Homo sapiens: one gene and its partner. The protein of the gene in region 1 purifies or fractionates together with the protein of each later gene. This does not show direct contact. Each region holds a gene or a part of one and is shown in the gene's direction. Other genes may lie near its edges.

What was found.
Region 2: the proteins of SSC5D (region 1) and KLHL23 purify together in Homo sapiens (affinity purification with mass spectrometry; one large-scale study listed by BioGRID and IntAct). This does not show direct contact.

The regions. Positions count from the first base shown.
Region 1 is NC_000019.10:55,501,913-55,505,726, forward strand, and holds part of SSC5D (soluble scavenger receptor cysteine-rich domain-containing protein SSC5D isoform 1 precursor), read left to right. Parts: intron 1-2,203; coding exon of another isoform or gene 2,204-2,274; exon of another isoform or gene 2,275-2,429; intron 2,430-3,814.
Region 2 is NC_000002.12:169,736,540-169,740,353, forward strand, and holds part of KLHL23 (kelch-like protein 23), read left to right. Parts: intron 1-3,814.

The DNA.
Region 1 (3,814 bases):
CTCACCCTCATCATCTCTATCTCTGTATTGCCCAGGATGGAGTGCAGTGGTGTGATCTCAGCTCACTGCAGCCTTGACTGCCCGGGCCCAAGCGATCCTCCTGCCTCAGCTTCCTGAAAAGGTGGGACTACAGATGTGCGCCACCACACCCGGCTCATTTTTAATTTTTGTAGAGACGGGCTCACTATGTTGCCCAGGCTGGTCTCAAACTCCTGAGCTCAGGCGATCCTCCTGTCTCACTCTCTCAAAGTGCTGGGCTTATGTCTGGGTTTATAAGTGTGAGCCACCATGCCTGGCCTCACTTCATTTTCCATGATCAAATTCTCTATCTTTTCTTCTCTGTGCCAATCTCTTTTTGCCTTTCATTTTCAATTTCTCACACTCGTCTTTATGCCGTATTTTTTTCATGGTAATTTCTTTTGCTCTCTCTCACCATCTTTCTCATTTTTTTTCTTTCGTTGTCAGTTTCATATTCCCATCATTTCTTTTTCCCTGTCTTTCTTTTTCAATTTCTCACCCTCATTACATCTATTTCTCACTCCAGTTTTCGTGGTCAGTTTCTCTTTATTTTTTTCTCCCTTGTCCTTCTGTCTTTTTGTTTCATTATCAGTCTCACACTCTCATCTCTGTTTCTCACCTAGTTTTTCCTGGTCAATTTATCTGTCTTTCCCCCTCAGTCTTTCACTTTTCTTTCAGATCTCACCTTCACCACCTCTGTTTCTCACTCCATTTTTCATGGTAAATTTCTCTCTCTCTTTTTTGAGACAGGATCTTGCTCTGTTGCCCAGGCTGAAGTGCAGTGGTGCGATCTCAGTTCACTGCAGCCTTGAACTCCCAGGCTCAGGTGATCCTCCGACCTCAGCCTCCTGAATAGCTGGGATTACAGATGCACACCACCATGCCTGGCTAATTTTTTTTTTTGAGACAGAGTCTTGCTGTGTTGCCCAGGCTGGAGTGCAGTGGCGTGGTCTCGGCTCACTGCAACCTCCACCTCCCGGGTTCAAGTGATTCTCCTGCCTCAGCCTCCTGAATAGCTGGGATTACAGGCGTGTGCCACCACTCCCGGCTAATTTTTGTATTTTTAGTAGAGACGGGTTTCACCATGTTGGCCAGGCTGGTCTCAAATTCCTGACCTCGTGATCCGCCTGCCTCGGCCTCCCAAAGTGCTGGGATTACAGGGGTGAGCCACTGCTCCCGGCCTGATTTTTTGTCGAGATGGGTTCTCACTATGTTGCCCAGGCTGGTCTCAAACTCTTGGGCTCAAGTCATCGGCTTGCTGCGGCCTCCCAAAGTGCTGGAATTGCAGGCGGGAGCCACTGGGCCCAAACTGTTTCTGTATCTTCCGTCCTCTTGTCTTTCACTTTCAGTTCTCAGCTTCGCCACCTGCTTCTCACTCGATTTTTCACGGTCGGTTTTGCTATATCACCTCATACTCTCATCGTCTCCATTTCTCACTGCGTTCTCTCCCCAGGCCCAGCGCTGTGGTATCTTTTCCTTTGTCTCTTACGGTTGTTTTCTGAGTCTCCATCTCCCGCGCCTTCCCTGCAGTCTCCCGCGTGCTCTCTTCTCTCTCCCCCTCGTTTCTCTCATGGTCAGCCCCCTTCCCTCCGTTTCTGTCTCCCGCGGGCTCCTCTGTCCGTTTCTCACCGTCCCCGCCGCCCTCGCCGCTCCCTCACGGGAGGTTTCACTCCCCACCTAAGGGGCAGCGTTTCTGTCCTCCCTCTGTGCCCGTCGCAGTCGCTGTTTCTCCGTCTTCTCCCTCCCTTCCACTCTCCCGCCCTGCTCGCCGTCTGGGGCTGCCTGGGTTTCTGCCTCTGTCGCCCCGCGCCCCGTACCTGTGCCCTCCTGAGAGGCCCAAGCCTCCCGCTCCCGCAGGAGAGTCTCGCCGCAAGCGTCCTTTCCCGCCTTTTTTTTTTCTGGCGCTCAGCACGCATGCGCAGGCGCGGTGGGCCCGGGAATGGAGGGACGGGATGGGGCAGGCGTTCATCTGCCTCGCACCTCGTGACGTCACAGGCGCGCTGCGCCTCCTGATTGGCCAGCCGGCGCATCGCCCGCAGTAATAATAGCTGGGCGAAGGGCAACCAGGCCCCAAGAAGCGGGCCTTGAGGTGGGGAAAGGGAGGGAGGAAGCAGGCCCTAGAGGCGCCGTGACTTGGGGGTGGGTGGGCTCCAGCTGTGAGTTAGAGCTATCATTCCGTTTCCAGAGCCGGAAGCGGGAGCTCCGAGAGGTGATGCTCCTCGTTCAAGGACTGCCAGGGTTGCAGCGCCTCCCTAGCCCATAGCGCCCCCTCGTGGTGGAGGCGGGCACGTGCCGGGCACAGCGGCTGCGGAGACAGCGGGTCCGGCCTCGGGACCCCTCCCGTAGGGTAGGGAGGCAGCCAATGAGCAGAAATAAATGCAGAATCACAAACTGCGCCGGTGAAATGAAAAGACAGCCATGTGTGCCACCTTATCAATAGGAAGACTTGGAGGCGTATGCGGGGTGGAGTGGGAGACGAGGCAGGCATGCATTCTTAGCTTCAGGAGCAATGTAACCTTGAAAAAGTGACTTGGTCTCTTTGAGTCCCCGTTTCTTATTTATATTGTTTTATTTATTTATTATTTATTGAGACGGAGTCTCGCTCTGTCACCCACGCTGGAGTGCAGTGGCGCTATCTCAGCTCACTGCAACCTCTGCCTCCCAGGTTTAAACGATTCTCCTGCTGCAGCCTCCTGTGTAGCTGGGATTACAGGCGCACGCCACCACACCGGGCTAATTTTTGTATTTTTAGTAGAGACGGGGTTTCACCATGTTGGCCAGGCTGGTCTCAAAGCCGACCTCGTGATCCACTCGCCTTGGCCTCCCGAAGTGCTGAGATTACAGGTGTGAGCCACCGCGCCCGGCCACCTGTTTCTTTCTCTGGAAAAAAAATGGGGCGCCAGGGTTGTTGGAAAGGTGGAACGAGAGCTCACCTAGTCTGTGCTGGGCATGCATGACCCCAACTTCAGGCCATAGAAACTGTTGCTACACCTGTGTTTCAGATGGGGTAAAAAGTGAGGCTCAGAGAAGTTTAACTTAGGAGCCACGATTATAACCTGTTTTAAGTGATTTCACACGTTTTGCTCCTTGGATTGGGAACCATATGCTAAAATAGAAGCACGAGTCTGGAGTCCGACTCTCCTACCAGGTTCCAATCGTGGTTCCAACCCGGATTAGAACTAGTTGGGTGACTGCAGGCCCCAATTCAATGAACAAAATGTGTGTGAAATCGTTTAAAACCGCAGAATATTGTTTGTTAGGGTTATTTGCTGAAAACGAACAACAGCTGCAGGATTTCAGGGAACGAGCGATTATTTGTAGTAGAGAAATCAAGGAAACCTCACAGGGGAGATGATATTATTTCATCAGCAGGCCACAAGGAGAAATGAATTCTCAGAGAAGCAAAGGGTGGGAGAAATTTGCATTGCCAGAAATTTTCATCGGTGTTATCCATCTCTGCTAGACTTTAAGCTCTGTGAAAGATCTGTATCTATTTCAATTGCTGCCATAATACATCGCCACAAATTTAGTGGTTTAAAACAACGCAGACTTATTATTTTGCAGTTTTGTAGGTCAGAAGTCAGACTTGCTTAGTGGGCTAAGATCAAGGCGCCAGCAGGGTGGTTCCCTTTGGAAGGCTCTAGGGGAGAATCCATTTCCCTGCCTTTTCCAGCTTCTAGAGGCCACCTACATTCCTTGGCTTGTGGCTCCATCCCCCATCATCAAAGCCAGCAACATTGCATCTCTCTGACCTTTCCTCTGCCTTCGTATTTTTCTCTCTCACTGTGGCTTGAAA
Region 2 (3,814 bases), on another chromosome or scaffold:
GATCAGCTCTCAAGAGGTCCTTCATTAAAACCTTGGAAGGTTTGGTCCCTACAGGATGTAACAAAGTACATTCTTCCAGGAACTAGAGACAACGTCTGCTTTTGCAATTCAGTCCTCTCTGAGAGGGGCAGACACCATACTCTCCCTCATGTGGCCCACAGAACCCGGCACACCCCTGGGTCTCGGTATCTGTCTGATAAACACTATTTTCTGCTGTGTTTGGCGATTTGTTTGCCTTGCTCTCCTTCTCTCCCACTGGAAAAAAAGTTAAACGGGAATCTTATTTCATTGTATTTATTCATTGGTGCTGAGGAGTTGTACAAAAACAACTGGTAGGTCGTTACCAAATTTGTATCATTTTGTCCCAAATGTTTCTTCCCAGGCTTTTCTGTTTCTTTTTTAATGCTAGTGAGAGTGTGGGAATTTGACCTGGTCTGGAAATCTGACCTGGTATGATCCTTGGATGACAGGCAGGAAGCTGAGAGGCAGAACAGTCTTGGGATCAGGCACGCTGCCTCTGAAGCTAAACTGCCTGCATCCAGATCCCTGCTTTCCTCTTACTTGCTGATGAGCTCTGGCAAATTGTTTAATCACCCTGTGCCCCCGTTTTGTCATCTGTATAATGGGGATGACAATATTACCTAGTCTCGGATCATTGAGAGGATTAAATTAATCTATGCTTGTGAAGTGCCTAGAACAGTGTCTGACACAGAGTAAGCATGCTATAAATGTTACGCATGATTGTCCTGAATGTCGGTATTGAAGGACATGTCAGCTCTTATAGAGCAGAAATTGATTTCATGTGAAGTTGTGACCACTGTCACACCAGGGTGGGAGAAGGTAGCAGAAAGCCCGGTGCTGTTGCTCCCCTGGTTTTTGTCTTTGCCTGAGTCTCACCACTACTTGCCGATTCCAGGAGGGCTCTGAATGTCCTGACCCCTCTTCTGCAAAAGAAATAAGAAAAGTCCATATATTTAAGGAGCTATTGTAAACTAGCATACATTTCTGATTCTGTTTTTTAAGGATGATATAACAGTTTCAATGGTTTTGTGGTTCAGAGTATATTTCTTTTTCTTTTTCTTTTTTTTTTTTTGAGATGGAGTCTCACTCTGTCTCCCAGGCTGGAATGCAGTGGCGTGATCTTGGCTCACTGCAACCTCTGCCTCCCGGGTTCAAGCAGTTCTCCTGCCTCAGCCTCCTGAGTAGCTGGGATTACAGGCATGTGCCACCACACCTAGGTAATTTTTGTATTTTTAGTAGAGACGGGGTTTCACCATGTTGGCCAGGCTGGTCTTGAACTCCTGACCTCAAGTGATCCCCCCACCTTGGCCTCCCAAAGTGCTGGGATTACAAGGGTGGGTTCAGAGTATATTTCTTTGAGAATGAAAGCTTATTACTTTACTGAAATTTTAAAAATTTATATTTAGAACAGTGCTTGTTGAAAAAAGATATGCTGCGATGGTGTATCTACTGTGAAACAAAAGCCATATGCATGCTTGCGTTAACCTTGAGTGGAGTAGGAGACCCTCATACCTCAAAGTCCTCCCTCACCTGCTAACTGGGTCTGAAATTCCAGTTTTATACTTTGAACTCAAAGCTTTGATTCTTGTTTATATCTAGTCATCCCAGGGAGAGGTAACACTGCCAGTTATGTGCAGTTTTGACTACTGCTTGTTTTGGTGGGTGGACTCATACAGAACTTTTTTTAAACAATTTTTAAAATTTTATTTTTAATTTTTAAAACTAGAAATGGCGGGGGGTCTCACTATGTTGCCCAGGCTGGTCTTGAACCCCTGGCCTCAAATGATTCTCCTACCTTGGCCTCCCAAAGTGCGGGGATTATAGGTGTGAACCACCACACCCAGCCATACTGAACTTTTAGATTCCCATTTTTTGGTAGAAAGGATAACATTTTTTTCAATTCGTTTTATTTTGTAGCCTTGAAGTGAAATAGCAGCTTTCTCTGGTAATAAACTTAATTTGGGTACAGTCAAATTTAAAATTTATTACCTTTTTTTGGTCCTGGACCCAAATTAAGTTCACTAATGTACAGAGAATAAATAAATACTTGGCTGTTTAGGAACTCCTGAATCTTTATTTTTTTCCATCATAACTGCTCTACTTATAAATCCACTTTTATTTTGGAATAGAAAGGAACAAGAAGATTGAACTGTATCATGCAAAATGGTGCTAGGTAAAAGTTAGTGGAAAGACAAAACCAACGTTTTCAACTAAAATGATCCTCATCATCTTTCTTCCTTTCTTCATCTTCCCTCCAAACCTATTTCCTCCCCCTCCTCCCCCTCCCCTTCCTCACCCTCCCCTCTCTTCCCCCTTCCCCTCCCTCTCCTCCCTATCTCCCTTTCATGTTTCGCCTATCTTCCTCTTTCTTCCTCCTCCTTCCCTCTCCTCCCCCTCCTCCCTCTCCTCCCCCTTCCCCTCCCCCTCCCCCTCCTCCCCTTCCCCTCCCCCATCTCCTCTCCCTCCTTCTGCCTTCTTCTTCCTCCTCCTCCTTCCCCTCCCTCTCCTTCCCCTCCTCGACTTCCCCCACCCCTCCTTGTTTTGGCATCAGTGATTCCAGTTTTTCCAGCTCAGGACCTCAAAATCGGTTTGGTTTGCCTCTGCGTCAGTCAGTCATCAAGACCTGTGTGTTTTACCTGTCTCTTTCCTCTATGCTCTTCCCTCCATACCCAAAGCCCCTTCAAAATCAGGCCCTCGAGACCGCCCACCCTGGCCAGTAACTAGATCTTTCTGGTACCTGTTCTTCCTTTGTTAGTTGCTCTATTCCTCTGTTTAAAAACCTTTAAAATCTGGCTGAATTAAATCCAGATTCTTTGTTGGGCATCAGTAAGTATCCTTTGCTACATGGCTTCAACTTACCATGCCAGCCTTAAAGTCCCATGCAACAACCCTCAATGTGCCACCTGCCCTGGTCAAACTGGGCTACTTAACATTGTCCAGTAAGCCTTTGCACTGGCTTTTCCCTCTGTCTAGAATGGCCTCCTCTCATCTATACTTGCCAACTTCCTACCATCACCCAGGTCAAATTCCACCACCACCTGCTGTGATTTCCCTCGTCAAATGCAGTGTTTTCTTGCCCTGACCATGCCCAGCAGTTCATCTGTCCCTTTTTTCATGGTGTTTCTTCCATTTTATATCTAGTGTTCTAATTACAGCCATGTGCCACTTAACAATGGGGATATGTTCTGAGAAATGTGTGATTAGGCAATTTTGTCATGTGAACGTTATACTTAAACAACAGGCTATACCATACTAATTCTACAGCCTAATACACACCTAGGCTGTGTGGTATAGCCTGTTACTCCTAGGCTTCAGACCTGTACAGCATGTTACTATACTGAATATTCTAAGCAGTATAACACAATGGTAAGTCTTTGTGTATCTAAACATAGAAACAGTACAGTAAAAATACAGCATAAAAGATAAAAATGGTAGACCTATTTGGGGCACTTACCATGAATGGAGCTTGCAGGACTGGAAGTTGTTCTGGTTGAGTCGGTGAGTAAGTGGGGAGGGATTGTGAAGGCCTAGGACATTACTGTACACTACTGTAGACTTTTTACTTTTTTTGAGACAGGGTCTTGCTCTGACACGTACGCTGGACTGCGGTGATGTAAACATAGCTCACTGCAGCCTTGACCTCCTGAGATCAAGCAATCCTCCCACCTCAGCCTCCCGAGTAGCTGGGACTACAGGCACATGCTATCACACGTGGCTACTTTTTTATTTTTTGTAGAGATGTGGTCTCACTTTGTAGTCCAAGCTGGTCTCAAACTCCTCCTGGGCTCAAGTG